Linked DNA regions of Homo sapiens. The protein of the gene in region 2 purifies or fractionates together with the protein of the main gene of each other region. This does not show direct contact. Each region holds a gene or a part of one and is shown on either strand. Other genes may lie near its edges.

What was found.
Region 1: the proteins of CAPN13 (region 2) and SAFB2 purify together in Homo sapiens (affinity purification with mass spectrometry; 2 studies listed by BioGRID and IntAct, with this or other methods). This does not show direct contact.
Region 3: the proteins of CAPN13 (region 2) and ZC3H4 purify together in Homo sapiens (affinity purification with mass spectrometry; 2 studies listed by BioGRID and IntAct, with this or other methods). This does not show direct contact.
Region 4: the proteins of CAPN13 (region 2) and SFSWAP purify together in Homo sapiens (affinity purification with mass spectrometry; 2 studies listed by BioGRID and IntAct, with this or other methods). This does not show direct contact.

Annotation. Positions count from the first base shown.
Region 1 is NC_000019.10:5,605,236-5,613,168, forward strand, and holds part of SAFB2 (scaffold attachment factor B2), read right to left. Parts: intron 7,333-7,933; coding exon 7,305-7,332; intron 6,396-7,304; coding exon 5,885-6,395; intron 5,454-5,884; coding exon 5,404-5,453; intron 4,861-5,403; coding exon 4,760-4,860; intron 1-4,759. UniProt on the Homo sapiens protein: Binds to scaffold/matrix attachment region (S/MAR) DNA. Can function as an estrogen receptor corepressor and can also inhibit cell proliferation.
Region 2 is NC_000002.12:30,721,947-30,728,055, forward strand, and holds the end of CAPN13 (calpain-13), read right to left. Parts: intron 5,434-6,109; exon of another isoform or gene 4,653-5,433; intron 2,952-4,652; exon of another isoform or gene 2,288-2,951; intron 1,291-2,287; 3' UTR 825-1,290; downstream 1-824.
Region 3 is NC_000019.10:47,110,302-47,119,053, reverse strand, and holds the start of ZC3H4 (zinc finger CCCH domain-containing protein 4), read left to right. Parts: upstream 1-5,277; 5' UTR 5,278-5,334; exon of another isoform or gene 5,335-6,340; intron 6,341-6,464; 5' UTR 6,465-6,469; coding exon 6,470-6,630; intron 6,631-6,795; exon of another isoform or gene 6,796-6,892; coding exon of another isoform or gene 6,893-6,906; intron 6,907-8,097; exon of another isoform or gene 8,098-8,121; coding exon of another isoform or gene 8,122-8,159; intron 8,160-8,179; exon of another isoform or gene 8,180-8,392; coding exon of another isoform or gene 8,393-8,415; intron 8,416-8,752. UniProt on the Homo sapiens protein: RNA-binding protein that suppresses transcription of long non-coding RNAs (lncRNAs). LncRNAs are defined as transcripts more than 200 nucleotides that are not translated into protein.
Region 4 is NC_000012.12:131,762,366-131,770,298, reverse strand, and holds part of SFSWAP (splicing factor, suppressor of white-apricot homolog), read right to left. Parts: intron 5,844-7,933; coding exon 5,613-5,843; intron 4,182-5,612; coding exon 3,991-4,181; intron 1-3,990.

The DNA.
Region 1 (7,933 bases), on a different chromosome or scaffold from region 2:
CTGGGATTACAGGCGCCCGCCACCACGCCTGGCTAATTTTTGTGTTTTTAGTAGAGATGGGGTTTCTCCATGTTGGCCAGGCTGGTCTCCAACTCCTGACCTCAAGTGATCTACCCAAGTCGGCCTCCCAAAGTGCTGGGATTACAGGCATGAGACACCGCACCCAGCCACTAAATACAACTGCTTTTAATACAAGATAAGTCATCACAAGGAAAACACACAAACATGCAAGGTTATAAAACCATTAAACTTCATTACTCACAACTAATAACCAGAAGTCCTACCCATCCACATTGTTTTCTCTATTTCCACTGTGCCCACAAACAGCTGTGGGGCTACTAAGAAATGCACCCATCCACTCCAGCTGGGCCTGAGAAGAGCTCTGACACAGACATGGACTGTCAGAAATGTCCCCATGGGGAAAGGACTTCCACTTCTGGCTGAGATGGGAGAACTAAGCATTGTCTTCCTGCCTGAAACAACTAACAAATGTGATGAAACGTAGGCAACGACAGTTTTCAGATCCTGGACATCAGGCTGCCCAAGACAACAATCCCTGAGAGCTCCCTGACTGCCCCTGCTCACTGCCTAGATTCCCAGGCAATGGGGGATGGGTAAGACAGCACTGAGATTCTGAGACCAAGACAGAGAGAAATCACGGAACTGAGTATCAGAGAGGACACAGCCACACAGAGCCACGCAGAGCAAGCTGAAGAGACCCACAGAGGGTTCCTCCCACCCAGTGCACACGTGTGCGAGGAAACCAGAGGCTGGGACAGCACCACCCATAAGGAGCAGAGGGAACAATCAGGAGCAGAGGGAACAACCACTGGAGGGGCACTCAGGGCCACAAATGGTTTGCTCTTCCCAATAGCCAGGGTGGAAAGGCTGGTAATTCACGGGCCATCAGACCCACTACTCAGAGGGCACTGCCCAGTGGTGAGACAAAATCAGCCCAAACTGAAGGCTACTTTGGCCCTGCCTTAGTGTGTGTCCAGTACCTCAGCTGTGTCCCAGAAAAAAGCTCAAGGGTATTTGTAGAGATACAAGTATAACTAGCACCCAAAAAATACAATTCACAACATCCAGTAAAAAATTACCAGGCACAGGCTGGGCACAGTGGCTCATGCCTGTAATCCCAGCACTTTGTGAGGCCAAGGCAGGTAGATCACTTGAGGCCAGGTGTTCAAAACCAGCCTGGGCAACACAGAGAAACCACATCTGTACCAAAAATTTTAAAAATTAGCTGGGTGTAGTGGTACATGCCTGTGGTCTCAGCTACTCAGGAGGCTGAGGTGAGAGGATCGCTTGAGCCCGGGAGCTCGAGGCTGCAGTGAGCACCACTGTACTCCAGCCTGGGTGACACAGTGAGATCCTGTCTCTAAGGGAAAACAAAACAAAACAAAAAAACCAGAAGAAACTTAAAAGCAGCCACAGAAAAAGAGAGAGAAAAGACACAAATTGGTAACTGAAGGAACAAAGATTAAATTAACCTAGAATTCTATACCCAGTGAAAATTTATTTCAAAATGAAGACAAAGTAAAGACTTTTTCTGACATGCAAAAGAAACAAGAACGTATCACCAGCAAACCTGCACTACAGGAAACATTCAATTCCTTCAGGAGGGAGGAAGATGATCTCCGATGGGAACTTGGATATACAACAAAAAGCAACGAAGAGCACCTGGTGAGGTGAACATGATTTTTTCCTGTCATTTCTGGGTCTCTTTAAAATATAACTGTTTGGCTGGGCGTGGTGGCTCACGCCTGTAATCTCAGCACTTTGGGAGGCCGAGGTGGGAGGATCACGAGGTCAGGAGATCAAGACCATCCTGACTAACACAGTGAAACCCCATCTCTACTTAAAATACAAAAAATTAGCCAGGCCTGGTGGCGGGCACCTGTAGTTCCAGCTACTTGGGAGGCTGAGGCAGGAGAATGGCATGAACCCAGGAGGCAGAGCTTGCAGTGAGCCGAGATCGCGCCACTGCACTCCAGCCTAGGCGACAGAGCGAGACTCCGTCTCAAAAACAAACAAAAACAAAAACAAAAACAAAAAAAAACACAACTGTTCAAAGCAAAAAAGCCAAACCACAACAAGTCAAAGCCAATAAAATATTGGGTGACTTCTTAAAGAGAAGTAAACCGTATGACAATAACATCACAAAGATCGACGGGAGGGGAAATGCAAGTATATTCCCACAGAGTTCTTGCACTACGCTGAAACCAACAGAGCACCCCTTGCAGACAGACTGTAAGGGAAGATGTGTACTGTAATCCTACAGTAAACCACAATGACACAGAGTTAGAGCAAATAAGCCATCAGTCATAAAAAGGACTCGACCCACAAGAAGGCAGATAAATGGGAAAAAGAGATCAATAAACAAACATGAACAGAAAATAGAGAACAAGACAGTAGATCTAACGCCAAGCCCACCACCACTGGCGCGCAGAGTAAACATTTCCCCGGGACACAGGAGTCCTGGTCTCTGCCCTATCTCTGACTCAGGGCATCAACCTAAGCAAGGCATTCCCCGTCTCTGGACCTCATGGCCCCAACTGTGAAATGACAAGGTGGAACCCACAAGCTTGAGGTTCCCATCTGACGTCCTTGGTTTTGACCACACAAATGGAGGAGTCAAGGCTCTGCCTGAATCTGTCCAGGGCCAAAGGGACAGAAGACTCTCCTGAGAGAAACACAGATGCCACTTCCCATTCTACCTTCCCATCAAATTAATCATCCTTACAAGTATATCTCTTCTGATGACAGACAAAACCCAAATGAGAGCAGGCACCATACTAAGCTTGTATGTCCCTATCCCTGAGCTATGCCATCCGCCCTGGAGGCTCTGCATACTTCAGTCAAGTAGCTGAGTGGTGTCCTGCCCCTCTGGCCTTCCTACGTCCTTCTGTTTTTGTCCAGAGCTGAGCCCCACAGGTAAGGCCAACTCTGTCACTCACGCCTCAGCTGAATGTCACTTCTTCAGCGAGCTCTGCTGAAGCTGCCTCCCAAATCTAAACACGGCCTCCCCAACACACTGACGGCGTGCTCTAATATTCCTTAATACGCTCATCACAACACATCATATGTGTTTATTTCTTAAATGGTCTTTTTCCCGCCAGACTAAAAAATCTGTGATGACAGTGACCACGTATGTTTACCTCTGCTTAATCATCAGTGTCCGAGTGAAGTCAACAAAGTAACTGAATAAACAGGTTATTCATGGCTATAAGAATTTCCTAAGCCCTTGCTGAACACACAGACTGTTCAGAGAAAAATTGAACAGCACGCTTTCTCCGGGTCCTGTCCGCTTCTTAAGCAATGAAACATTAACCAACACCTGATCGGGTGACACAGACCTAGACAAAGGAACGGCTTCTGTAGCCAGAAAACTGTGTCAGACAGGGCCCACTCTGCCTGGAATCAGGGCACCCTCCAGACACTAAATGGTCCGAACCTTGTCCCTTGGAAGCCACTCCCCAGAGGCACCCAGGAGACCAGGGCAGTGCCAATTGCTTACCAGAAGACTCTTGGCTAGGCGCGGTGGCTCACGCCTGTAATCCCAGCATTTTGGGAGGCCAAGCAGGCAGATCACATAGGTCAGGAGTTGGAGACCAGTCTGGCCAACATGGCGAAACCCCATCTCTACTGAAAATACAAAAATTAGCCAGGCATGGTGGTGGGTGCCTGTAATCCCAGCTACTCGAGAAGCTAAGGCACGAGAATCACTTGAACCTGGGAGGGAGGCGGAGGCTGCAGTGAGCCAAGATCACACCACTGCACTTCAGCCTGGGCAACAGAGCGAGACGCAGTCTCAAAAAAAAAAAAAAAAAAAAAAAGAACAACAAACAAACAAAAAAAGAAGACTCTTAATTAATTTCAAACAGTGGAATCATTTTAAATTGTCCTCACCTTCCTTTGGAAAGCTGCTGAATTGTACTATTTTTCTCCCACCCCCATGAGCAGCATCTTAGTGATTTATTTTTGAACCACGATCATGTTCTAGTTATGAGACTATATACTTAAAATGCTAAATGATATGAAAGTCAATTATTCACTTCATTCTTTTTTTTTTTTTTTTTTTTTATGACATAGTCTCGCTCTGTTACCCAGGCTGGAGTGCAGTGGCACAATCTTGGCTCACTGCAACCTCTGCCTCCTGGGTTCAAGTGATTCTCCCACCTCAGCTTCCCGAGTAGCTGCGACTACAGGCACAGAACACCACGGCTGGCTGATTTTTGTATTTTTAGCAGAGACAGGGTTTCGCCATGTTGGCCAGGCTGGTCTCCAACTCCTGACTTTAGGTGATACGCCCGCCTCGGCCTCCCAAATTATTCTTAAGGGAAAAATCTCATCATGTAAGCTTTAAGTTTTGCACAAGACAAAAGACCACCAGTCTCTTTGAGACCAGTTAGAAAGAACCCCAAGAACATTGAGAGAGAAGCTGTTTATACAGCTGTTCTGAGCACTGTTGTGATATGACCAACCACCTGCCCTGCTCCGCACCCTAGTTACTGTGAGTCAGGAAACAAGGTGCACTGCACAAGACTGGGCGAGCTTCGCTGCTGTCGTTCCATTTTTTAGTAAACACAACATCTTGCTATGTTGCCCAGGCTGGTCTTGAACTCCTGGGCTCAAGCAATCCTCCTGCCTCAGCCTCCCAAACTGCTGGGATTATAGACGTGAACCACCGTGCCCAGCAGAGCTTCCTTTTTAACTCTGAATCACAGTGGATGGTATGAGGCAAGGGAAGGCATACCTTCCCATACTTGCTGAAAAGGTTCTTGAGATCCGTAGCGCGTGTTGTGGAGGACAGCCCGCTGACCCACAGGTTCCGACCAGAACCGCTGCCGACCCGACCTGGCACGAGAGGGAGATTCTTAGGCATCACCCCAAGGCCTAACAGGAAGCACAACCATTCTTAAGACCGCAGCCCTCTTTAAAAACCCTAACGACGCCCAATCCCAACTGCTGACTTAAGAATTTAACGCACACACACATGCCAACACACAGAAGGCTGAAAATCTGGACAGCAAAAACTGAGTTTCCTTACTCAAGGAATAATCATGCCCATGTCAGTTATGAACTGAAATGTCTTTTGATGATCAGATCTCATCCAAGACGGCAGTCTCTAAAATCCTTGAAACAGTCTTCAATGAGCAGAATTATTCCTTTCTTGTAATGTGCTTTTCACCATCCCATAGATGACAACCACAAGAGAAACATAAAATGCAGGTGCTTGCGAACTTCTAAAACTAGTCTCTCAAGAAACCATTAGGTGGTTGATTCCGGTAACCCATAACAAAACAAATTACTGAATCCAAAGTGTGTATATCTCCAGGCCCCTCCTCCCAAAATAAGGGAACCATACCTGGCTCCCTACCACGTTAAATTAAATCATACCTTTTTCATCTTTAATGATTGGCTTTATATCTTTTTCTTCCTTAAAAGAGCTAGAGACAAAAGTTAATGTTACTCATACAGGAAAAAAACGAAAGAGAACAAAACTAAAAATATGATTATGTGCTAAAACTGAATACCTACCAGAAAATTAGTCTGAAATAAAATTTTAACAGACACCTCTGCAAGCTTATATTGGAAAATCTGACCCCAAAAATACAATGTCAGATTTGTAAAAGTCAATTCGATTTAGCTGAAGATAACAATTAACAATTTAAGAACACAACCATGGTAGGTTGAGAAAAAGAAAAGGAATTGAATCACCCATTAAAAACACACAAAGAGAAACGAAACATTCTTTAGAAGCAAAACTACAATTTCGTCAGTCTGGCTGGCCAATTGCAGAAAAAAACAGCTTATGTGTGTCATTACATGACCAATGAAAAGGAGATAGCGTCTGGTCTAAAACTGAGAAAAAACAAACCTCATTTTCTGATCAGCGCCCTCACTGGTTGAGGACTCTTTAGGAGCCGGAGGGACTTCATTACAAGCGTCAAAATCAAACTTCCTCCCGTCTTCTTTGCTATCTCTGGCTTCTGGGCTTGGGGCTTCCGTGGGTGCTTCTGCGAGCTCCTCGCTAGAGGCCTCCGCGAGCTCGGAGGCCGCACTACTCTGCTCAACTGCCGGCTCTAGCCCTACAGGCTCACAGTCCGTCCTCTCGCCATCGCCTGGCTGCTCCGCGGGCTCCCTTTTCACTACCGCTAACAGGCTGTCTGCCTTGCTCGACTGAGCGTGTGCTGTTGACTCGCTGGCCAAATCTAAATCACCCTCTTCCGGATGGGCGCTGTCAAATAGGTCCTCTTCCTCCGCAAGCTTTCTGTCTGGCCCCACGCTACTTGTGTCCTGTGCAAATGGCTGCTCCAGCTCGGAACTTTCTTCTTTTACTGGCTCAGATTTACAAGTTTCCCCCAAAATGTCGAGTATTTTCTCATTTTCTACGGATTTAACAGGAATAGAATGGCACAAGGTTTAATTACCAGGGAAATAAAGCAATCACAAATGTGGAACTGGCACGGCTGCCACACTAACACGAAGAGAACTGCTAGCTACACAGAGATTGGAAAACCCGCGGGTACACAAAGTTATACTGGTTACACTACCTGCGCCGCGACCGCCTCTAGGTAAGCCTCTACGCTACACGGAAGAGAAAAGGCCCCCACAGATTTAAACACCTACAACCACGCGGCTGGTTCTCAATAGTCTTCTTCGAGTTTTTGTTCAAGTCTGGGTCTTCTGACTGATTTTCCAATGTCCAAGGTGCTGAACCGAATGCAATCACCATTCAATGACAGCTCAACTTCCAAATTTCTTTGAATTTCTTTTAACAGAACAATCCAATATGAAAATCAGAATCTCTTCTGACGGTGGGAGATAAACGCAGTCCGGAAGGGGAATAATATGTTGAAAATTTTCACGGAGAAACTCTGTTTCCTCTTCTGGAATCCAGTCACTTCTCAGGTGGTAAGTGCCCTGACAACAGCTTTATCCTGCCTTAACTGCGTTAATCAAAATGACTGCAGCAAAATATCACAAGATCTGTTTCATGTGTAGAAACACATGGAGGAATCACGGGGACGGGGGAATTAAATGCCACTCTACGTGGTTAGACATGAAAAGAATCACTACTACATTGCACCAAATGTATTTGACCTCAAGAAGCCAGAATGGCTCTTCCACAGATCTGGTGATACGAATGGGTTTCCAATCTCTGATCCTTGTATGATCTGGATTGTCCACCATTAGAGCAATTTACAAGATCATAACACAGCTTAAAATATAGACAGCTTTAAAATAATAGTGTGAAAACTTTCAAACCATAACTGTCGTGTTTCTCTTATCAGTACCTGGCTCCAAAAGGGATTCTTCAATGTCCTATTTAAAAAAGAAAAAGCAAATCCACAAGTCACTTTAAACACGGGGCACATACATTTCACCAGTAAATATGGCTTTCAATCATCTGTGAATAAATGCCTGTTTCCACAAAACTTTCTTGTCTCCAAAAAATGTATTCCATCCTACAATAACCTGATGAAAACCAGCTCATTTTAACAGTTTCCCTGGTAACAGCAGGTCCCTAGTGATAACAGTCTGTCCCATTCTCCCGAGTTTGGGCCCTGCCCTGCCATGCCACCCACCCCATGACCAAGCTGACCTAGTGGCTGCTGCAGCTGGCAAACACCCCCTTTGTCAGAGAAGAGGTCACAGTGGATTTAAGAAAAAAATACTTCTCCCAACATAAACTGATTTGTAACTGAAACCTGTCATAACAAAATGATCTCTCTACTCTGCTGAAAACCTTTTCCGACATCTGTCTCACTTAGGACAATAGGTCCAATCCTTCTGGTGGCCCAGACTCAGCGAGGCGGGCCCAGCTGCTCTGCAACACCTCTGGCTTCTATCCAACCCTGTGTGCTCCCCTCTCTCTTTTGCATCAGAGACACCACCCAAACTTTCTGCTCCAAATTCTTCTTTC
Region 2 (6,109 bases):
TTTCTACCTGGATGCCTGGGTGAAGGTCATCTTTGAATCCTGCAGGAAATGGCTTATTCATTCTTATGGATTTTCCCACTTATCAGAGTCTCTGTTGACCTGCCAGCCCCAGTTTTTTTGCATGCAGAAAATCTTATGCAACAGGGCAGTCTGACAGCCTAGGATTCAGGATCTTTAGATATTAGCTTTAACTCCAAAGTCCATGCTCACAAACATGGGCATCTATCCTGGCTAACCAAGCAGGGGACTGGGAGGCAAAGTGACCTGTCCCAAACTTTGCTGTGTGTCTGACCCTCTCGCTATTCAAAAGCATTAGCAAGAGGGGTTCAACTCCTTAGGCAGGTAGCTATTCTACTTGAAATGACTGTGGAGGCTTTACAACAGTCCCTGTGGATGAGGTCACTTGGGCCTGTTTGGTACTTGTATACAGCATGCCATCACTGCCGAGCACTGCCCTTGCTCCTGGCATGGGTGTGTGTGTGATGATGCAGCCCTGTCCACACCATCCTGTCCTCCGACCGTGCCACTCAGAAAGTCACACTCAGCAAGCTTCCCACCTTCCTGTCCTTTTGACACACCCATTTGCAACGATTCCCCTACTGGGTTGATGCATCCAGAAATGAGCTTTCCAACTGCAAATTCTTCTGAGCGGGATCTGGCCCAGTTATGCTGTGGAATCTCTTCCATCCTCTGTGGGCCTCACCTTTTTGAGACACCCAGTGACCGCACCATGGATGAGGAGAGAGTGAGGGAAGCGTCTGCCTTGCTGGGTACTTTTCCTCTTCCCCAAATGTATTTTTAAGACAGAATATGAATGAGAGACCTTTATGGGAAACATGTTTTATTTTTGCCATTTAGCTGTGAAATCATCAGGATCCAGACATAAGATAGTGTAATTATTCTGCAAACACCCAGTGGACAGCTCTTGTGTCACCCATAGCACCCGAGGGTGGTCAAAGTGGCTCATTCTGGCTCTTCCAAGAAATGAATCCAACTGGTGACAGGGGACTCAGAGACAACTTCTCTTCTCCTTTCCCACAGGGAGACATCTCCTGCTTCCTTTTCCAGGGCAACGTAGGCTGAATACATCCCAAAGTGCTCAGATGAGCTGCTTGGTGGCCACAGGCTTAACTGGGCCTGGGCCAGCCAAGGACCGAACCCAGGCTGTTGGGAGACAGCTTGGACTCTGTTTCATGCAGGGCTGGTTTAGATTTATCACAACCACCATACTGGGCAGCACAGCCTCTTAGAATGAGAGCCAGATTCTTGAGTGATCACTGGGAGCTTGTCCTAGAGAAAGACACGGGGGTGCAAATGCAGAGGGCCAAGGGTGAGTAAAGAAACTCCTTCCTTTGAGTGACCATGGAAGTGGGGCCCCATTCCAAAGATGCTGTTCTGGATCATCCCACAGTAAAGGAAGCACTGGCACTTCCTGCTGGCAAGGCTGACAGACCCCAACGTGCCCATGGCCCCTTAATGGATGACCCTACCCCATTCTTCAAAATTCCTTAAAGGGCACCCCCCCACCTGTCCTGCCCCAAGCTTGAGTTCATATCATAGCCCATTTTAGCACCTTGAGGGCTGGCACTGGAGTGGAGGGAAACTTGGGGGAGAGATGTTCCTCCCATCTCCAGGCAGGTTAGAAGGGCTGAGGCCAGGGGCTGCTATAGTAACAACAGCCCTGAGCTCTGTCCCATCCAAGCTCCAGATGGCTAGCTTTGGACTTCTGCAGAGGAGTGGTTTTTCTCAAGTGCAGGGGGCTTGGAATAAAGTGACATTCGTGCATAGTCATGTTTTCTGCAATAATCAGCCAGCTGCCCTACCCATGGGGTAAAGAGGCCTCAACTCTTCTTCCCTGCCTCCCTCCACCTCTCTTGTCTCTCAGACTACTTGCTAGTTTGCCTATTTTTTTTTCCATGAAAACTCAGTCCAAGATACATGGTTAGAAAATTCAAAGAGTACTACAAGGCACGAAGGAAAAATAGCAGGTTCTTGTCCCATTTCTATCCAAATTCCCCTCCCTAAACTCTTTCTTCTGATGTTTACCTCCATATTTCTAGGTAATGTGCTTATGCAGTTAATTCTTGATTTGTCAATTTTAAATGCCTATTGACTTCTTATGATGCAAGATGGGGTGGGGTTGCTTCTAACCCCCTTTCATGTCTACATCTTCCCTCCTTCTGATATATTTATGTCACATTTTTGTTAAATCAATATTCCATTTGTATTTTATTACAATTATATATGTACTGTTCACTGCTGAGTGAAAAAATACTCTAGGATCACATTTTCTCTCTTCTGTAACTCTTTATTCTTCCAGGAGTTAATAACTACCTCACTTTTTTGTCTGCTTAGTTTAAGTCATTATCCTACTAATTCTTCCAAAGCTCTCCAGCAGAATTTCAAAATCCCTCTGAACATTATTTTTTCTATAATTAAGCAATCTGATCAAAAATTGCTCCCATTTTCCCCAAAGGCCACCCCTCCAGCTCCTCTCGGAATGGCTCACTCTCTTGCTCTGCTGCATAGCGCTGGTCCTTGGACTTCCCTGTCTCTGTCTAGTGTTGGATCTTCTGTTTCCCGGATTCCAACTCTTCCTCCTCCTTGGTTTATGCCCTTGGAGTGTACATGTCGGTTTCCCAGTTGGATACATTTTTCTTCCAAAGCCAGCTCCAGAAGGCTGGACACCCTGGCATCTCAAGGTGCCTGGTAACCACCAGGTGTATGCTTGCCAATGGTGTTGAGTGTTTTCACATCACCAGAGGCACATCCAGACTCACAACTCTCAACTCAGAAGTATAGGAGAGTTTAACTTGAACTCTGACAGTTCCATCTGCCCTGGGGTGTCAGTCTTCAACCGAACATCTAGCCAGGTCTCTCGAAAAGAATTTCTTTTGATGAACAGAATGAGATTGGAGAGATGGATTTACTGGGCTAGAAGTAGACTCATCCTGCAGAAAATGGTTGTTGGTCTCAGTAAGACCAGGGCCACTGTTGTCATATTTCACCTAAATCCTGCAGAATAGGAGAAGGTGGCCCTTTCCTCAAGAAACTGTATTTTTATACAGTGGGAAATTGTTATAAATGACAATTTTGTTAGAATAAGGCATTTTACTGGCATATTGATAGATCAACATGGATGTAGATGACATTAGCTAGACAAACTCTCAGCAGGGTGTGATTTGCCGTGTATTAAACCTCTAGACTCTGAAATCAATTAAAATCAATACAGCCTCAAGTGTCCAAGGAGCACAGAGCAATGAGTTAAGTGTTAGCATTCTTTCAAGTATGAACTTTATATTTAAACATATTTTAACATATTTTAACATAGGTATTGCCTGCAATGTGACAACAAGGCATACACTTTGTTTAAAAGAAATATATATGATGGGAAGAGAGGAAGAGGAGTTCATCCCAGTTGCATATACCTATATCCCAATCTGCTAGGTCAGAGGAGAGCAGATGGGTTGAAGATGAGCCAGAGAGAGGAACAGAAGTATTCTTACAACAAAAGTATACCTCAACTTGCCCGGTGAGTCCAAGGGCAGATAAAAGACCTCTTGTACACAGTTTTGTAGGGAGTGACCTGGAAACCAAGTAGACTGGTGATGGAGCTCCAATAACCCTCATCTCTGGGAGAAGCTCGCTTAACTCAGGACAAAGACTTTGCTCGCTCCAGGGACACTTTGTAACACGGAGGATCAAGTGAGCAAGGAGAGGGACTTCTCTGGATCGAATCCTGGCTAACGATAAAAGTCTCTTTGCTGACCTCAGAGTGTTGGAACTCCTAGAAGAAACTTTGTAATAGCAAAGTAAGGGAATATTGGATAGAGTTGAAGTGACCAGGACACTTTCAACTTTTTCAAAAAAGTGAGGGAAATTTTCAAATTTTTCAAAAAAGTGAGGGAAAAATAGGCCTTCATAAGATAATATGGGTCATGATGTATTAGAGATAATAACAAGATAATATTAACTACCTGCCTTCCAGTACACCAAAGGGGAAGAAAATAGAGAATAGCTAAAATAGCAGGAAGACTAGGATGTAAGCTAATACTAACAAATGCTAGGATGAGAACAAAACAAAGGAAGGTATAAACCTGAAAGAATGATTTATTTCGGTTATTTGGGAGAAAGTTACCAACTAGTTTCTCCAGGGTAGGTGTTTCGCTTTGTGCTAAGGAAATAGCAACAAACAAGACATACCCAGGCTTATAGTCTAGCAGAGAATACTGACATCAAGCAAGTAATGAAAAGTGTGTTAACTCAGCCAGCTACAAATAGAAGTGAACTTCCTCAACCTGGCAAATGGTATCTATGAAAAACTCACAGTGATCATCATATTTAATGGCAAAGGATTGGGTGTTTTCCCCCAAGATCAGGAACACAAGGTTGTCTGCTTTGTACACTTCTATTCGGCATTGTATTAGAGGTTCTAGCCAGACAATTAGGCAAGAAAAAGAAATAAAAAGCCTCTATATTGGAGTGGAAAAATAAAACTTTATTGCAGATTACATGACTTTTGAATATATAAAATTCTAAGGAAGCCCTTTAAAAATATTGGAACTAATAAACAAGTTTAGCAAGGTTGCAGGATATAAGATCAATATAAAAATAATTTTTATTGCTGTACACTAGCAATGAAAATCTGAAAATAATATTAACAATTTTATTTAAAATTGCATCCCAAACTACAATAGTTAGGAATAAATTTAACAAGGAAAGTGTAAGACTTCTACACTGAAAACTGTAAATCATTGTTCAAAAAAATTAAAGAAGATATAGAAAAATGAAGAGACGCATGGAACAAAAGATTTTATATTGTGAAGATGGCAATATTCCCCAGATTGACCTTTAGATTTAATGTAATCTCTATCAAAATCCCAGAAGCTGATAAATTGATTCTAAAATTTATATGTAAATGCAAGGAACCCAGAAGAGCCAAAATAGTCTTGAAAAGTAAAATAAAGTTGGAAAACTCACACTTCCTAATTTCAAAAGTTACTATAAAATTGTAGCAATCAACAAAGTGTGATACTGGCATAAGATACACACATAAATCAATTGAACAGAAAGGAACGTCCATAAATACATTCTTATATTAAATTGATTTTTGAAAAGGGTTCCAAGACAAAGAAACAGGAGAATGAATAGTTTTTTCAGCAACTGGTGCTGGGACAAATGAATGAATGCAAAAGAATGAAATTAGAACGTTACTTCACACCATATAAAAAATGATCTCAAAATGGATCAAAGACCTAAATGTAAGAGCTAAACTATAAAACAGAATAAATAGTTTGACCTTGGGTTGGGCAATGATTTCTCAGCTATACCACCAAAAATATGTGACAAAAGAAAACAATAGATAAATTAGACTCCATCAAAATTAAAGACTCATATGCTACAGATGATGGCATCAAAAACTGCAAAGACAACCTGCAGAAGGGGAGAAAAATTTTGCAAATCACATATATAAGGAATTCGTATCTACAATATACAAAGAACATCTATAACTCCTCTGTAGTAAAAATATAAGTAACCCAGCTTAAAAATGGACAAAGAACTAAATGAACATTTCGCCGAAGATATAAAATAACCCACAAGCACTGAAAAGATGCTCAAAATCATTAGTCATCATGAAAATGCAAATCAAAACCACAGTGAGATATCACTTCACACTCCCTAGGATTGCTATAAAAGACAGACAATGACAAGGGTTGCTGAGGATGTGGAGAAAATGGAATTCTCATTTGCAGCTGGTGGGAATGTAAAATGGTGTAGCTGCTTTGGAAAACAGTTTGGTGGTTCCTCAAAAATTTACAAATAGAATTTCCGTATGATCCAGCAGTTCCACTCATAACTATACACCCAATTGAAATAAAAACATATGTCCCCCCAAAAACCTGTGCACAAACATTCATAGCAGGATTATTAATGACAGTCAAAACTAGAAACAACCCACATGTCTATCAACTGAGGAATAGATGAAAAAAATGGGGTAAAGCCACAATGAAATATTATATGGCACTTAAAAGGAATGAAGTACTGATACACGCTACAACATGGATGAATCCTGACAGCATTACGCTAAGTGAAAGAAGCCAGTCATAAA
Region 3 (8,752 bases), on a different chromosome or scaffold from region 2:
GAACCAGGGAGGTAGAGGTGGCAGTGGGCCAAGATTGCACCACTGCACTCCAGCCTGGGCGACAAAGCAAGACTCCGTCTCAAAATAAATAAATAAATAGGCCGGCTGGGCGCAGTGGCTCACACCTGTAATCCCAGCACTTTGGGAGGCTGAGGCGGGTGGATCACCTGAGGTCAGGAGTTCGAAATTAGCCTGGCCAACATGGTGAAACCTCAGCTCTACTAAAAATAAAAAAAATTAAAAAAAAAAATGAGCTGGGAGTGGTGGCAGGCGCCTGTAATTCTAGCTACTGGGAAAGCTGAGGCAGGAGAATCGCTTGAACCCAGGATGCAGAGGTTGCAGTGAGCCGATATTGCACCATTGCACTCGACCCTGGGCGATAGAGTGAGATTCTGTCTCAAAAAAAGTAATAAAATAAATAAAATAAATAGGCTGGGCGCGGTGGCTCACGCCTGTAATTCCAGCACTTTGGGAGGCCGAGGCGGGGCGGGTCACTTGAGGTCGGGAATTCAAGACCAGCCTGGCCAACATGGTGAAACCCCATCTCTACTAAAAATACAAAAAATTTGGCCGGGCGCAGTGGCTCACGCCTGTAATCCCAACACTTTGGGAGGCAGAGGCGGGCGGATCGTGAGGTCAGGAGATCGAGACTGTCCTGGCTAATACAGTGAAACCCCGCCTCTACTAAAAATACAAAAAATTAGCCGGGCATGGTGATGGGCACCTGTAGTCCGAGCTACTCGGGAGGCTGAAGCAGGAGAACGGCGTGAACCCGGGAGGCGGAGCTTGCAGTGAGCCGAGATTGGCGGGGCGCAGTGACTCACGCCTGTAATCCCAGTACTTTGGGAGGCCGAGGCTGGCGGATCACAAGGTCAAGAAATGAAGACCATCCTGGCCAACATGGTGAAACCCTGTCTCTACCAAAAAGACAAAAATCAGCTGGGCGTGGTGGCACGTACCTGTAGTCCCAGCTACTCAGGAGGCTGAGGCAGGAAAATCGCTTGAACCTGGGGGGCGGAGGTTGTGGTGAGCCGAGATTGTCCAGCCTGGGCAACAAGAGTGAAACTCGGTCTCAAAAAAAAAAAAAAAAATTAGCTAGGCATTGTGCATGCCTGTAATCCCAGCTACTCCGGAGGCTGAGACAGCAGAATCGCTTGAACCTGGGAGGCGGAGGTTGCAGTGAGCCGAGATTGCACCACTGCACTCCAGCCTGGGAGACAGAGCGAGACTCTGTCTCAAAAACTAAAAAACTTGGCAGGGCACGGTGGGTCACACCTGTAATCCCAGCACTTTGGGAGGTCCAGGCAGGTGGATATAACCTGAGGTCAGGAGTTCTCGACCAGCCTGGACAACACGGTGAAACCCCATCTCTACTAAAATACAAAAAATTAGACAGGTGTGGTGGCGTGCGCGTGTAGTCCCAGCTACTCGGAAGGCTGAGGCAGGAAAATTGCTTGAATCTGGGAGGCAGAGGTTGCAGTGAGCCAAGATTACGACACTGCACTCCAGCCTGGGAGACACAGCGAGACTCTGTCTCAAAAACTAACTAAACAGGCAGGGCACGGTGGCTCACACCTGTAATCCCAGCACTTTGGGAGGCCGAGGCGAGCGAATCACAAGGTCACGAGTGTGAGACTGCAGGGCCAACATGGTGAAACCCCGTCTCTACTAAAAACACAAAAAATTAGTTGGGCATGGTGGTGGGCGCCTGTAATCCCAGCTACTTGGGAGGCTGAGGCAGGAGAATCACTTGAACCCTGGAGGCAGAGGTTGCAGTGAGCCGAGATTGTGCCACTGCTCTCCAGCCCGTGTGACAGTACGAGGCTCTGTCTCAAAAAAATAAAAATAAATAAATAAATAAATAAAAATAAAAAAGTCAGATGAAGTGTCAGAAGGGCTTGGCAGACAATGTTCCACAATGTTCCATCATGACACTGAAGAAGTACAGGGAATTCCTGCTTGGTGGGATTTTTGTTTTCCCCATTACTTAAAAGCAGATGGCCATCTAGAATTGTAGAATGGCCCCATTGAAACTACAGAGATGGGGCCCCTTCAGGACCATACCTTGAAAAGACAATGGCTGTCCTCTTAGATGTGGTCTATGTTCTCAATCAGTGATTTTGTCCATAACCCAGAATACATGAGGTCCAAAAATCAAGGTGTAAAGGAAGGAATGGCACCATCCACAATCGAACATAGTGAGCTACTTTGGTGTCCTTCCTTTCCATTCCTACAAACCTGAAGTATTAGTTCTTGGTGTGTTAAAGAAAACTTTTTGGACAACATAGCTATGAGCATGAGTGAACATTTTATTACAATCTTACATGCAAGGAAAAAAGGTCTCTTGTTGGCCAATTAAGATTCACTCTAATAGGGACATTTTATAGGAGAAGAGAATAATTATCTAACCATTAGATCTGAGATTGGATCCAGAAAGACGATAGTCAGGGTAAAGGTAACACAATTCTTGGCTGGCAACTGGGGTACCAGGTGGGATGGTGGGGGGAGCACCAGCTTCTTAAAACAAGTTTCATCCACTGATGATTTATTTTAAGCATTTTGTCAGGAATTTTCTTCTCGCTGTGTCACCCAGGCTCTAGTGTAGTGGTGTGAGCTCGGCTCCCTGCAACCTCTGTCTCCTGGGTTCAAGCGATTCTCCTGCCTCAGCCTCCTGAGTAGCTGAGACTACAAGCAACTGCCACCACACCCGGCTAATTTTTTTTGTATTTTTAGTAGAGACAGGGTTTCACCACGTTGGCCAGGCTGCTCCTGACCTCGTGATCCACCTGCCTAGAGTTCTCAAAGTGCTGGGATCACAGGCGTGAGCCACTGTGCCTGGCCTTATTTTTATTTTTATTTATTTATTTTTTTTGAGACAAAGTCTCCACTGGAGTACAGTGGCATGATTATAGCTCACTGTAGCTTCAACCTCCTTCAACCTCCTGGGCTCCAGTGATTCTCCTGCCTCAGCCTCCCAAGTAGCTGGGGCCACAGGTGCATAGCATGAAGCCGGGCTAATGTTATGACTTCTTTTTTTTTTTTTTTGAGACGGAGTCTCGCTCTGTTGCCCAGGCTGGAGTGCAGTGGGGCTATCTGCAAGCTCCACCTCCCGGGTTCAAACCATTCTCCTGCCTCAGCCTCCCGAGTAGCTGGGACTACAGGCGCCCGCCACTATGCCCGGCTCATTTTTTGTATTTTTAGTAGAGACGGGGTTTCACTGGGTTAGCCAGGATGGTCTCGATCTCCTGTCCTCGTGATCTGCCCGCCTCGGCCTCCCAAAGTGCTGGGATTACAGGCGTGAGCCACTGCGCCCGGCCATGTTTTGACTTTTTGAAGAAACTGGGGTCTCACGATGTTGCCCAGGCTGGTCTTGAACCTCTGGGCTCAAGCAATCCTCCTGTGCTAGAATTATAGGCATGAGCCACTGTGCCGGCTGCAACATTTAATTTAATTAAAGTCTTTCTGTCACTCAGGCTGGAGTGCATGATCTTAGCTCACTGCAACCTCTGCCTCCCGGATTCAAGCGATTCTCCCCTCAGCTTCCCGAGTAACTGGTGATTACAGGTGCCGGCCACCACGCTTGGCTAATTTTTTTTTTTTTTTTTTTTTTTTTTTGAGACGGAGTCTTGCTCTGTCATCCAGGCTGGAGTGCAGTGGTGCCATCTTGGCTCACTGCAACCTCCACCCCCTAGGTTCAAGCGATTCTTCTGCCTCAGTCTCCCAAGTAGCTGGGATTACAGGCGCGCCACACCATGCCTGGCTAATTTTTTGTCTTTTTAGTAGAGACGGGGTTTCGTCACGTTGGCCAGGCTGATCTCAAACTCCTGACCTCAAGTGATCCGCCAGCCTCGGCCTCCCAAAGTGTTGGGATTATGGGTGTGTGCCACCACGCCCCGCTGCCAGCTGGAACATTTAAAAAACAGTAGGATCCGCTGGGCGCGGTGGCTGACGCCCGTAATCCCAGCACTTTGAGAGGCCGAGGCGGGCGGATCACGAGGTCAGGAGATCAAGACCATCCTGGCTAACGCGGTGAAACGCCGTCTCTACTAAAAATACAAAAAATCAGCTGGGCGTGGTGGCGGGCGCCTGTAGTCCCAGCTACTTGGGAGGCTGAGGCAGGAGAATGGCGTGAACCCGGGAGGCGGAGCTTGCAGTGAGCCGAGATCCGCGCCACTGCACTCCAGCCTGGGCGACAGAGCGAGACTCTGCCTCAAAAAAAAAAAAAAAAAAGTAGGATCAATATACCAGGAAGTCACATGGTGCCTCTGTCTCCAGATTTATCACTGTTGACACGGTTTTTCTCTCTTCCTGGAATCTAAGTGGTCTTTGCTTTGTCAGGGCCTGAAATAAGGTATTTCTTTTCTTTTTTTTTTGAGACAAGAGTCTCACTCTGTTGCCCAGGCTGGAGTGCAGTGGCATAATCTCGGCTCACTGCAGCCTCGCGACCTCCCGGGATCGGGCGATTCTCCCTCTTCAACATCCCGAGCAGCTGGGACTACAGGTGTGAGCCATCATGTCCTGCTAATTTTTGTATTTTTAGTAGAGAAGGGGTTTTACCATGTTCGTCAGGCTGGTCTCCAACCCGAGCTCAAGCGATCCGCCCGCCCCGGCATCCCAAAGTGCTAGGATTACAGGCGTGAGCAACATCGCCCCGCCTGAAATAAGGTATTTCTTCTGCCTGGAACCATCTCTTCTTTTTCATGTACCAGCCTAAAAGAACAATTACAAGACCCTCCTCTAACACTCCACCCACCCCCTTTATTCTTTAACTCTGTTTCTCTCCCTTGGGGCATTATCGGTTAAGTTCCATGAAGACAGAAACTGTTCCCATGCTCCATCACAGGGACTGGCACTGTAGAAAGAGCTAACAAGTATTTAAGGAAGATCCCTGGATTCGAGGTTACAGTGAGGTATGATCGTGTCACAGCACTGCAGTCTGGGCGACAGAGCAAGACTCTGTCTCTTAAAAAAAAAATCTTGCTGTGCTTTTTAGAACTAATCCTATGACCGTGAACCGATTACTTAAAACACCGAACTTCAGTCTGCAAATGGGAATAGCAGCAGCTTATGTTAGGACGGTTATGAGGGTCAAAAGATTTTGTTTGTACAGTCTACGACACCGGCCAGTGTTTCTAGCTCTGCTATTTGAGAGCCTTCCATGGGTCCTACACCCCAGGTCCTTAAACTCCCCTGAGGGACTACCAAGCCCCGCCCCTCTCGCATCCAATGATGACATCATCGACTGGGTTGTCGAGTGACGTCACCTCCGGGCTGGCTGGGCTTCATCGCTTCTCCGGAAACCTCCGACTCTCGGCACCTGGCCTCCAGCTTTCGGTTATTTTTTTTTTCCCTCTCCGTAGCCTGAATTCCTTCCCTCCCATTCTCCCACCTAAAACTATTGGCTCTTCCCGCCTTCCTTCAAACTAGCAATTTTCGGTTTTTCCCTCTTGCTCTCCGGCGAATTCCTGAAAGTCGTTTATTCTCCCCTTCAGCCCCGCCCGTTCAGCTCATTCTCTTAATCGCATTACCCTGGCTGCTTTTCTTTCGGCTGTTTCCACCTCCTGCCACCCACCCGGACACCGCTTTCGGCTCTTTCCGGACCGTCTCAGTTTCTCCTCCTTCCCCGGTCCCGATCGGCTTAGGCTATTTATGGCTCCCCTAGGTTTCTCATGCTCTCTCTAGCCCCACCCATATCACCACCTTCAGCTCTTTCTGGCTCTCCCCCGTCGCCTCCTCGCTCCTGCTCAGCTCCTTTCGGCTATTTCCGCCTCCCCTCGGCCTCGCCCTTTGCCTTCGGCTCTTTCCGCCGGCCTTCGGGCAAGCGGTCTCTACCCCTCTCCTGCACGTGACACGGCCTCCGCCTCCGCCTCTCAGTTCCCCCTCCCATCTCACCCTTCCTCCCGCCTCAGCCTCTAGGCTGGTTCGGGCCGAGCCGCCATTTTGTGTCAATTCCTGATTGCGGCGGGGGCCGGGCAGCCGGGGCACCCAGGGCGGGCAGAGAAGGGAGACAGTCGGCCCGTCTCCGCGGCCCGTTCCCTCTCTCCCTCAAATCCTTTTTTTCTTTTTAACCCCCCACCCCCCTCGCTCGCTCTCCTCTTCTCCCCTTACCCTTCGCTTGCTCCATCGCGCGCGGCCCGCGCTAATTACACCCAACCACCCACCAGTGTCCGTGTCTCCCGGGTGTCCCGCCCCCCGGGGGTGCGTGGGGGGGGGGCTCTCGCCCCTATGAGGGCCCCGCGCCAGTGAGCGAGTGACCGCAAGGGTGGGCTGCGGAGAAAGCAGGCGGCGAGCGGCCCTCCGAGGCCTAGGCCGTGCGGCCTACGCGGAGGTCAGCGCAGAGGTGATTCCGAAACCGAAAAAATATATACCCCATTCCCATCAGGAGCCCTCCGAGCTTAAGTGTGCCCCTCCCGCCACGCCCAAGCAGTCCTTTTTCGTGCATTAACATCCCCTCCCCCCCAAAGGAACTATGGAGGCCGCGCCCGGGACCCCCCCGCCGCCGCCATCAGAGTCGCCGCCGCCGCCATCGCCGCCGCCGCCATCAACGCCTTCGCCTCCTCCGTGTTCCCCCGACGCCCGCCCGGCCACCCCGCACCTCCTCCACCACCGCCTCCCGCTCCCTGACGACAGGTCAGGCCCCCGGTTGGGCCGGGGCTGCGTCCCCGGGGGGAGGAAGAGGAGGAGGAGGAAGGGGGGCGGCCGCCATGTTGGGCCGGGCCGCGGAGGAGGAGGAGGAGGAGGAGGAGGAGGAAGGGCGGGGTCGGTGGGTGTCTCTCGATCGCTTGCTCGCTCGCTCTTTCTCGCTTGCTTTCTCTCCCGGCCTCATGCGTTTCCCCCCCCTCGCGGCGCTCGCCCGCTCTCCCTCGCTCTCGCTCTGTCTTTTTTGGGCGCCATGCTGAGGGGAAGGTGAGGAGGCGCCCCTCGGACCCCCCGCGCCCGTCCGCCTGTCCTGGGGAGGGGGCGCCGTGGGGGGTGCTGCGGAGACCCACGGGGGTCCTGGCTGCCCCTGCGCCCGGAGCTGGCAGCTACGGGCCCGCTTGCCCGTCGCCTGGCTTCGGGGAAGGGGATGGGGGAGGGGCTCCGGACCCTTTTTGGGGGGATCTCGAACAACAGCCCCGCTCTTAGGGGTTTGGGGTTGGGGGTCTCCCAGCCCCCGGCAGTATCCTTTCTCCTGGGGGAGGCACACCCTGTCCTACTTGGATGATAGGTACTTTAGCTTAGGAGGCAGAAGGTGGGGGTTCATTCAGGTCCCTTCTCCATCCTTGTAATTGGGGGTCATTTGGGTGGGTGCTCTATAGCACTTGTATTTTTTGGCGGGGGGTGTTTTTTAGCTATCCCCTAGAAGGCCGAATTGGGGAGGGGGGAGATGCATCTCCAGCCCTTTTGATGAAAACCCCAGCCTATTTTTTTAGAGAAGACTCTTCCCCGTGTTTTTGCTAAAGGGCAGGGGTCCTCTCGCTTTTCGTAGGTAGGTGACGTGAGGGAGGATTCTCAGCCTTGTTTTGCGGGGGTAAGGTTTGGTTTCCCTGCCTTGTAGGGAGAGGAAGTTGGTCCCGCGCTTTCTCCTGGGGTTCCCCCCTCTGTCGGGGTAAAATGGGGCACCGTCTCTTCCGGGAGAGAAAAGGAGATTTCCTTGTGCTTTGGCAGGGCGTTAAAGGAAGCGCCCCCTTCTCTTTATTAAGTCCGAAACGCGGGCCCCCCACGCCCTTCTCTGGCTGGCGGGTGATAATGGGGTCAGCCCGGCGCGTTTCAGGGCGAGGTTGGGGCCCCGTTTCCTTCCCCTGCTCGAGCAGAAGGAGTTGGGGTGCAGGGTTCGCCCACTGTTTCCTGGTGGGGCGAGAGAAGAGGCGGCTGGAGAGTAGGTTTGGACACGGACGGTGGGTTTCAGCCGGCAGGAAAGCGAGTCTTGGAGGGAATGGGGGTGGAGAGGGGAAGAGAACGCTCTGGACAGATGGCTACTCCGTCGCAGCCCTGGCTGGGGAGCCGCTGAGGACCCTTCCTTAGCCGGGGGGTCTCAGCCAGGGCTTCCCTTGCCAGGCTGTACGTACGACCCCTTCTCCCCACTCCCACCTCCCCTTTCCCCTTTCTCCTTCACAGACCATACTTTGCCTTTTAAAAGAAATGCCACCCACATTCAGAGACACAAGTGCAGCAGTTTGGTGAGCTTTTACAACATTTTTTTTTTCTGTTTTGTTCTAATTAAATGTATCGTCCTGGGAATCGCAGCCCATCGCAGCCCGACTCCAGTTCAAGGAAATAAACAGATTAGCAAAGGTCTGTTCGCTAAGCCCTCGTTGGGCTTCCGGGCCCCCTCTCCGGGGGCAGGTGCATTACTCAAAGGTGCTTACACGCTTTATTCGACCTCTAAGGAGTTCTCTTATGTCAGAAGTGTATGTCTTACAATGGGTTGGGATGGTAAGTAGCCTCTTTTATTGAGTAATTCAATGATCTCCCTCTTTTTCTCCCTTTACTGCCTGCCTTCCTCCTCGCCTTTAGACCAAAGTGATGCTTGAGAGTGAATTGATATGTTCGAATCAGGATTCTAACCCTGTTGAGCCCTTTTAGACTTGCACATCCTTTCAATGTTTAATTTTTAAAATTTGACGTACACAGTTTTCTCAGAAAAAAAAGTGTGTTACTGTAACATGACAAAAATCGATGTAAAAGGCCCGTATGTTTTCAGACCCTTGGCATCCTTCTTTCCATTTCAATCCATTGCTTTGTCTCCAGCCTTCATCTTTGAAGAAAGTGG
Region 4 (7,933 bases), on a different chromosome or scaffold from region 2:
CCCAGGGCGTGCGGTGGCCGAATGTGGTCTTGTCTCAAGTCCTCCTGGACTCCGAGAATTTCACAACTACATAGCTGGGTCAAATGTCTCAACATCAGCGAGTAAAGCAGATGCTAGAATACTTAGTAAAGTCAAGGGTAACCTGTCCCAGAAGTTGTTTTAGGCTAAAAATATTTTCGAGTTTGAATTTTCTTTATGGCAATTGCCAATTTAATTACAAGTATTTTTGTTTCAGAAGCAATTAAAGACATTTATCATCATCTGCTACAACCATTACATTTTTGTTGAAATGGCTTGGTAGCTGTAATCTGCATACACAGACACACACATATATCCAGGGAGAGCATCCTAGTGATTTAAACGCTCATTTCTATGTTCTACAGATTCAAAAACCAATGCCTGCAAACAGGAGAGGTGAGAGGGTACGTGTAAAAATAAATAGGACAGATTGAGACCATCTTGGCTAACATGGTGAAACCCCGTCTCTACTAAAAATACAAAAAAATTAGCCGGGCGTGGTGGCGGGTGCCTGTAGTCCCAGCTACTCGGGAGGCTGAGGCAGGAGAATGGTGTGAACCCGGGAGGCGGAGGTTGCAGTGAGCCAAGACTGCGCCACTGCACTCCAGCCTGGGCGAGAGAGCAAGACTCTGTCTCAAAAAACAAACAAATAAATAAATAAATAAAATAAAATAAATAAATAGGACACAGACCTAAGCTGTAACATATCTTATGTTTATAAGGAAATAATTCTGGTTGCTGTGATGCGGAACTACAGCAGATTGGGAAAAACTGGGCTAGTGATAAATTATACTTGTGACTGAGTTTCACTGGAAATTTTATGACGACATACACGTATAGTCATGTAATGTAACTGGTTAAAGCATTCCTGTGAATGTCTTTCAATTAACCCCTTTACCCGCTGCACAAACGATATCAAAACATGAGAACCCGTACGCCACTGTAACAGGTCCCTTACTTTCTTAAATTCCCTTCCCTCCTTGCTACATGCATATTTTCATGGCTGTAACCACAGAAGTGGATATATTTTATACTGTGCTTCTCCTGCTTATTACATCAGAAGCATTTTCTGTGTGGCTACAAGCGTCCTCATGATCATTTTTGTTGTTGTGTATTTCATCCCCTTATTGCTGCAGAACATCCTTTTTTTTTTTGAGAAGGAGTCTCGCTCTGTCGCCCAGGCTGGAGTACAGTGGTGCAGTCTTGGCTCACTGCAACCTCTGCCTGCCAGGTTCAAGAGATTCTCCTGCCTCAGCCTCCCGAGTAGCTGGGATTACAGGCATGCTCCACCACGCTCGGCTAATTTTTTGTATTTTTAGTAGAGACGAGGTTTCACCATGTTGACCCCAGACTGATCTCGAACTCCTGGCCTCAAGCGATCCACCCGCCTTGGCCTCCCAAAGTGTTCGGATTACAGGTATGAGCCACCACGTCCAGCCAAGAAATCCTATTAAAGCTAAGGAATGACCACAGATCCTTCGGCCATAACTGGCTGAAGTGAGGAGCCAGGAGGCAGCCCCGACTCTGAAGAGCTGTGGAAAGGCTGTGAGACGGCGTCCCGGGGGGCTGCTGGGGGTTCCCACCTTGCCTGAAAATGTTCGTTTCTGGGGCTGGCATGTCAAATGGCTCAGAGGAGCTGAGGCTACAGCGGGTGGCCAGAGCACTCGGGACTCAGGGCAGGAGCCCACCCTGCGGCACTCGGGGACTCGACAGGGTCTCACACAAACTCATCTTCTCTGCTCTTCTAATTCTCCCCTCCTTGCCCGTCAGTTATTATTTCTGAGGCCTCCTGCCAGATGTGAGAGGATTTCAGACTGACTCCCAAAACAAGAAAGCTGATTCAGCCTTCAGCATCATTTGAAAAGTCTGAGCTTAGAATGTTGTTTTCCACAGAAAAATAAGCGAAGTGACTTCAAGCAGAAAATCAGTTTTCAATAATGGCCCTGGACTCTTAGAAACGTCAATATAATTAAAGTGAAAGGCTCATTCTGTACTTTGGGAAAAAAAGATCTACAAAAGACACGTGGGGCCACTTGGAGCAACGTGGCTGCGGCCTGCAGAGGAAGTGATGGACACCATCGGTGGACAATCTGCATGCAGTGCTGTGTTTCCCAGGAGAAGGCCCTTCATGGGAAATGCAGCTGCAGTATTCAGGGCAGAGCAGTCACCACATATGCAACGACTCTCAGAGAGGGCGAGCACGCGTGGGTCAACGTGCGCACATATAGATGAGCGAGCACGCGCATGCAATCGCCTGGGGTGCTGGGGGCATCTTCCCATTCTTTCCAATTTTTTGAAGGTTTGAAACTTTTCAAAAAGTAAAATTCCCGGAGTTACTACCTTTTTTATTCTTTCCAACTTTTATTTCTTTCATCACCCAGGCAGTGAGCATAGTAGCTAACAGGGAGGTTTTTGATCTTCACCCTCCTCCCTCCCTCCCTCCACCCTCAATGAAGCCCTCGAGTCTGCTGTTCTCTTCTCTGTGTCCATGTGTGCTCAATGTTTAGCTCCCACTTATAAGCGAGAACATGTGGTGTCTGATTTTCTGTTCCTGTGTTCATTCATTTTTTTAAAGAGAGAGATTAGGTTGAGAAAGATTTTATAAAATGATTTTTAAGTGTTCTTGAAATAACATAAAACCACAACTTTTTAGCTATTGTCTAATTGTAGATGTAAACCCATTCTAATATTATAGTTCAAATGTTGTCAGCTTTTAATTCACCTACAATTACAGGACTAGCTACTAAAATGCCCAGTTTTGTCACAGTTTATTGATACAAAGACAACCCTCCTTTAATCCTCAAAGGATGTGTCCTACTCTATTATTTTTCTTACTTTAAGAGTTATGTCTCCAAAATGCTCCTAAACTCCCCAAAGAATTTCTGCATATTCTTGTAGTTTAAATACAAAATAAAATTCAGAGACATAACTACTATAAAGAATCTAAAATTAAACTTAAAAGATTCTAAATTGATGTGACAAAAAAAAAAGTAGAGTTTTTGCTGATTATGATTAATTGCTGTGCTGCTGCTGCGGAAGGCATGTGTTTCCTGAAGGCCTCTGGTCTCGGACACGCATGGGAGCAATCCCCTTGGCACAGGAGCCAGTGTCTACTGAAGGCCTCTGGTCTCGGACACGCATGGGAGCAATCCCCTTGGCACAGGAGCCAGTGTCTACTGAAGGCCTCTGGTCTCGGACACGCATGGGAGCAATCCCCTTGGCACAGGAGCCAGTGTCTACTGAAGGCCTCTGGTCTCGGACACGCATGGGAGCAATCCCCTTGGCACAGGAGCCAGTGTCTACTGAAGGCCTCTGGTCTCGGACACACAAGGGAGCAATCCCCTTGGCACTCAGGAGCCAGTGTCTACTGAAGGCCTCTGGTCTGAGGCACTGTTCTGAGCACCCCCTCCTTGGCAGGGAGACTTGTAAGGCAGCCACGTGATGACCCCCATGTAAGGCCCTATTCCTGCTCACACCACTGAGGAAGGAGCCATGTACTCCTGGAGTCTGTTCTCTTAACTCCCTCTTCCTTTTTCTCTTTAATTAAAGTGCTGACATTGATACAGACCGTGGCAAAAGGATTTCTGCCCCACGTGTGAGCGCAATACTGGTGCTGCTGCGGAGGCGGGGCTTCAGTGAAGTGTGTCCACCACATTTCCCCAGCAGGACCCATGGGAGGCACTCCCCAAGCCCTCCTGCCAGCCCCATAAGGGCAGCCGTGAAGCAGAGGCTCCCCTGAAATCGCGGGCAGTGTTTGCTGCTGGCGTGACTGTGCACTGACGGGGGAGACTGCTGGCAAACTCTTAGATTCACTGCTATAGAGTAAAAGCCACTCAACCATGTCGGGAGGAAGAGCTGGGAGCTCATATCCCTCACTCAGGCCAGAGACTAGGGCAGCTGGAGGGAGACACATCCTCCCTGCCTCTATGTATCACACAGCCCCGCAGATACCAATGTGGGATTTTACTATACCTCGACACTGAAAGGACTCTCCTCAATTTTCCCAGCTTCTGCTTCCGGCAGAGGATTTTTGAGGGTCTGTAAAAATAACGCCGCTTTCCTTTTACGTTCTGCTTGAAGCTGTTTCTCTTTTGACTCCTTAGACGCCTGGGCCAGCTTTTCCCGGGCAGCAGCTGCGAGGCGATCTTCCAGCTTTTGCTTTGCTTAAGGAATAAACAAAGAAAAAAGAGAAGTTTAGAGCAAACAGTATTTTATCTGATCTTAATTTTCACAGGTTGCAAAAGTGTCATACAATGCAGTTAGTTAAAGTTTCTGAATAGGTACATACATTGGACAAATCAAATTTTGAGAGAATTAGTTTATAACGTGCCCTTTTTTGGACATTTTACTTTCAGAGTTAGAAGGTTGGTGAGACTCTACACTAACGAAAGCTGGAATAATGAAAACCTCAGAGTGGCTCTCAGCATATATCCAAAATATTCACACCAGGCAATGAATACTCTATAAGTGTTTTATTCCAAATGATCCGACAGTTGGTTAGTTTACACACAGGAAGGACAGATTCAGATGTACAGGCATGAGTACAAGTTTGCTTAGGGAGAACACCACAGCACAATGGAAGTTCTTGATGGTGGATTGTGGTTGAAAAATGGCTTTTTTTTTTTTTCTTTGAGACGGAGTTTTTGCTCTTGTTGCCCAGGCTGTAGTGCAATGGCGTGATCTCAGCTCACTGCAACCTCTGCCTCCCGGGTTCAAGCGATTCTCCTGCCTCAGCCTCCCAAGTAGCTGGGATTACAGGCGTGTGCCACCACGCCCGGCTAATTTTGTTTTTTCAGTAGAGATGGGGTCTCACCATGTTGGCCAGGCTGGTTTCTAACTTCTGACCTCAGGTGATCCACCCACCTTAGCCTCCCAAAGTGCTGGGATTACAGGCATGAGCTACCGCGCCTGGCCTGAAAATTGGCCTCTTTCAAATGTTGCTTGATCTGAATGTGTGTATACAGGAAAAGCAATTTAAGAAAATCAGTTAGAATAGATAACAACCACAATGCAGCAACCATTATTTGACTGCTTTAATGCAGAGCAGAATTTATTCTGGAGTCGGGATGGGAAGACTACATGCTGTCCCCATGCTGCCAGCAGTGTTGGGGTGGGTGTGGTGGCCACACTGCGGCCCATGAAGATGAGCCGCAGCCGGAAAACCAGCTGGGGACACACCACCTTCAAGGGCCCAATGGTTCTGTGGGTAGGCAGCCTCACAAGAGGGCATCTCCTAGTTTGGTTCCTGAGCTGGGAAGACAGGCTGAGCCTTTTACCCTGGGGCTGCCAGCCAAGTGCAAAGTGAGCTGCCATTAATGCATTCCACTGTGGCGCATTAGAGCTAAGACGGCCAACTCAGTTTCTTCGAAAACAAACTGCCAGCGGCACTGCATTTGAGGCTCAGTGAAGAGCAGAGCTCATTCCTCTAAAAGAGAACGTTTCAAAACCTCAGACATGTTACACAACTCCCAAATAGGTCGATTTCCAAAGGCTTCAGATTCTAGTTGGCAGCCTCGAGATTTTTTGGCTTAGCAGATAAATCTTATATTTGTGTATTTCCTTTCTTTCAAGAAGTTTAAAAGCTATCAACAAACCTTGCTTTGCTTCTAGCTCCTCCTGGGTAAGTTGAGGCTTCTTCTCCTCAACAACTACACAGGGTGGGGCAACTGCTGGGTTAGTGTTTGCAGCACTACTAGAACTTTCTTGGCCTTCTTTGCTTTCTTCATCATCATCACTGTCATCATCTAGCTTAACACGATTTTTTTCCAGGGGAAGCAGATCATTTTCTTTGGCCTTGATTGCAAAGCTTATTGGAGCAAAGGAAGCTATTGAGGAAAGGTGAGAATTATGATACATGTTACAGAGTGGAAATCTTTGCAGGCCCTGCTACCCACCTGAGCATCGGCTGCTGGGAAGGGGATGACTAGCATGGAGCCACATCATATGCAGGGTCTACGGTGGGGGACGCCGTGCCGTCAGAGCAGACCTGTGCAGATGTGCACTGCATGGCGTGGGGCTGGGGTGAGCCCCTGAACCATGCTGTGAGAACCGCACTGACTGGGGACTTCATGGCAAGGGCACACTCGCTGATGCCAGGGCAGTCACCTGCAATTTTAAATGGCCAATTCTTGTCATTTTTCTTTTCTTTTCTTTTTGAGATGGAGTCTCGCTCTGTCGCCCAGGCTGGAGTGCAGTGGCACGATCTCGGCTCACTGCAACCTCTGCCTCCTAGGTTCAAGCGATTCTCCTGCCTCAGCCTCCTGAGTAGCTGGGAGTACAGGCGCCCGCTGCCATGCCTGGCTAAATTTTTCTATTTTTAGTAGAGATGGGGTTTCACCATGTTAGCCAGGATGGTCTTGATCTCCTGACCTCGTGATCCGCCTGCCTCGGCCTCCCAAAGTGCTGGGATTATAGACGTGAGCCACTGTGCCCGGCCTCATTTTTCTTTAAAAAAAAAAAAAAAAATTCATGGCTCAGCATATATCTAAATTTGCTTCAGGAGGCATATGATGTGACTCCACTATAAACAGGTCTCTTTAAAAAATTCCCCATGATAAAAAATAGCCTTTTCTTACAAAGCAAAAATTACAGAATCCATGCCTTTATTCAGCAAACATTTTTACCTACTTTGTGACAGGCATTATGTTAGACCATTTTCCACACCTGTAAGAAAATGTCAAACCCAGCGTGACAGAAGTTTAGAAGCAATCCCTCCTCTTAGAATATCCAGAAGGCTTAAATTTAAGGGAAATATGGAGGCCCTAAAGAAAAAATCATCTTTCCCGCCCCACCACTCAATGAACACAGAGTCCCTTTCTCTTTCAGATGCTGTGATAAATGGCTCTTGACAAGAGCTAACTGGTTGCAATAAGATACAGTATTTTAAAAAACCATCAGTTGTTATTTATGAAGAATATTCAAGGCACCCACAATGAAGGGGATGCTAAGTGCACCGCAAACCAGGTGACTGAGAGGGAAGTGGGTTCTGGGTAAACAAGGCCGCTTCTGGAAGGGCTGCAACTTATGTTTGTGATGCCACCTCTGTAGCACAGGGTGGGCTACCTGGCTGGCCCCTGGCGGAGGTCCTTCCGCTTTAGCATTTTATGGCTCCAAACCCGCGTGTGATGTGAAGTAGACAGTTAAGCATGTGATAGCCCAGACCCTCTGAAATATAACCACTTTTCATCAACAACTGCCTCAGGGGACAGGGCACACACAAAGATACTGATACCGGGACAGCAGTATTTTATAACATCAAAATAAAAAGCAGCAGGGCCGGCAGCTGAAGCCAGATGATGAGCACGTGTGTGGGGCGTGAGTGGTCATTATGTGATATTCTGTTTTCGTACATGTTTGAGATTTTCCATAAGAAAAAAAAAATTGGCCGGGTGCAGTGGCTTACGCCTGTAATCCCAGCACTTTGGGAGGCCAAGGCAGGTAGATCACAAGATCAGGAGTTCAAGACCAGCAGGGCCAACACGGTGAAACCCTGTCTCTACTAAAAATACACAAATTAGCTGGGTGTGGTGGCGGGCGCCTGTAATCGCAGCTACTTGGGAGGCTGAGACAGGGGAATCACTTGAACCCGGGAGGCAGAGGCAGAGGTTACAGTGGGCTGAGATCACGCCACTGCACTACTCCAGCCTGGGTGACAGAGTGAGATTCTATCTCAAAAAAAACAAAAAACAAAACAAAACAAACAAGGGGCTGGACTAAAATATATCACAAAATGATTTAATAACAATTATTTCCAAACCATCTCCCCAAATTAGAAAAATACGCAATCAACAAATAAGAGTATTAAGATGAAAGCTTCCAGAACACCTTCTAGCAATGCTTATTTCATTTTACATTTTATTTTATTTTTTTTGAGAAAGGGTTTCACTGTGTTGCCCAGGCTGCAGTGCAGTGGTGC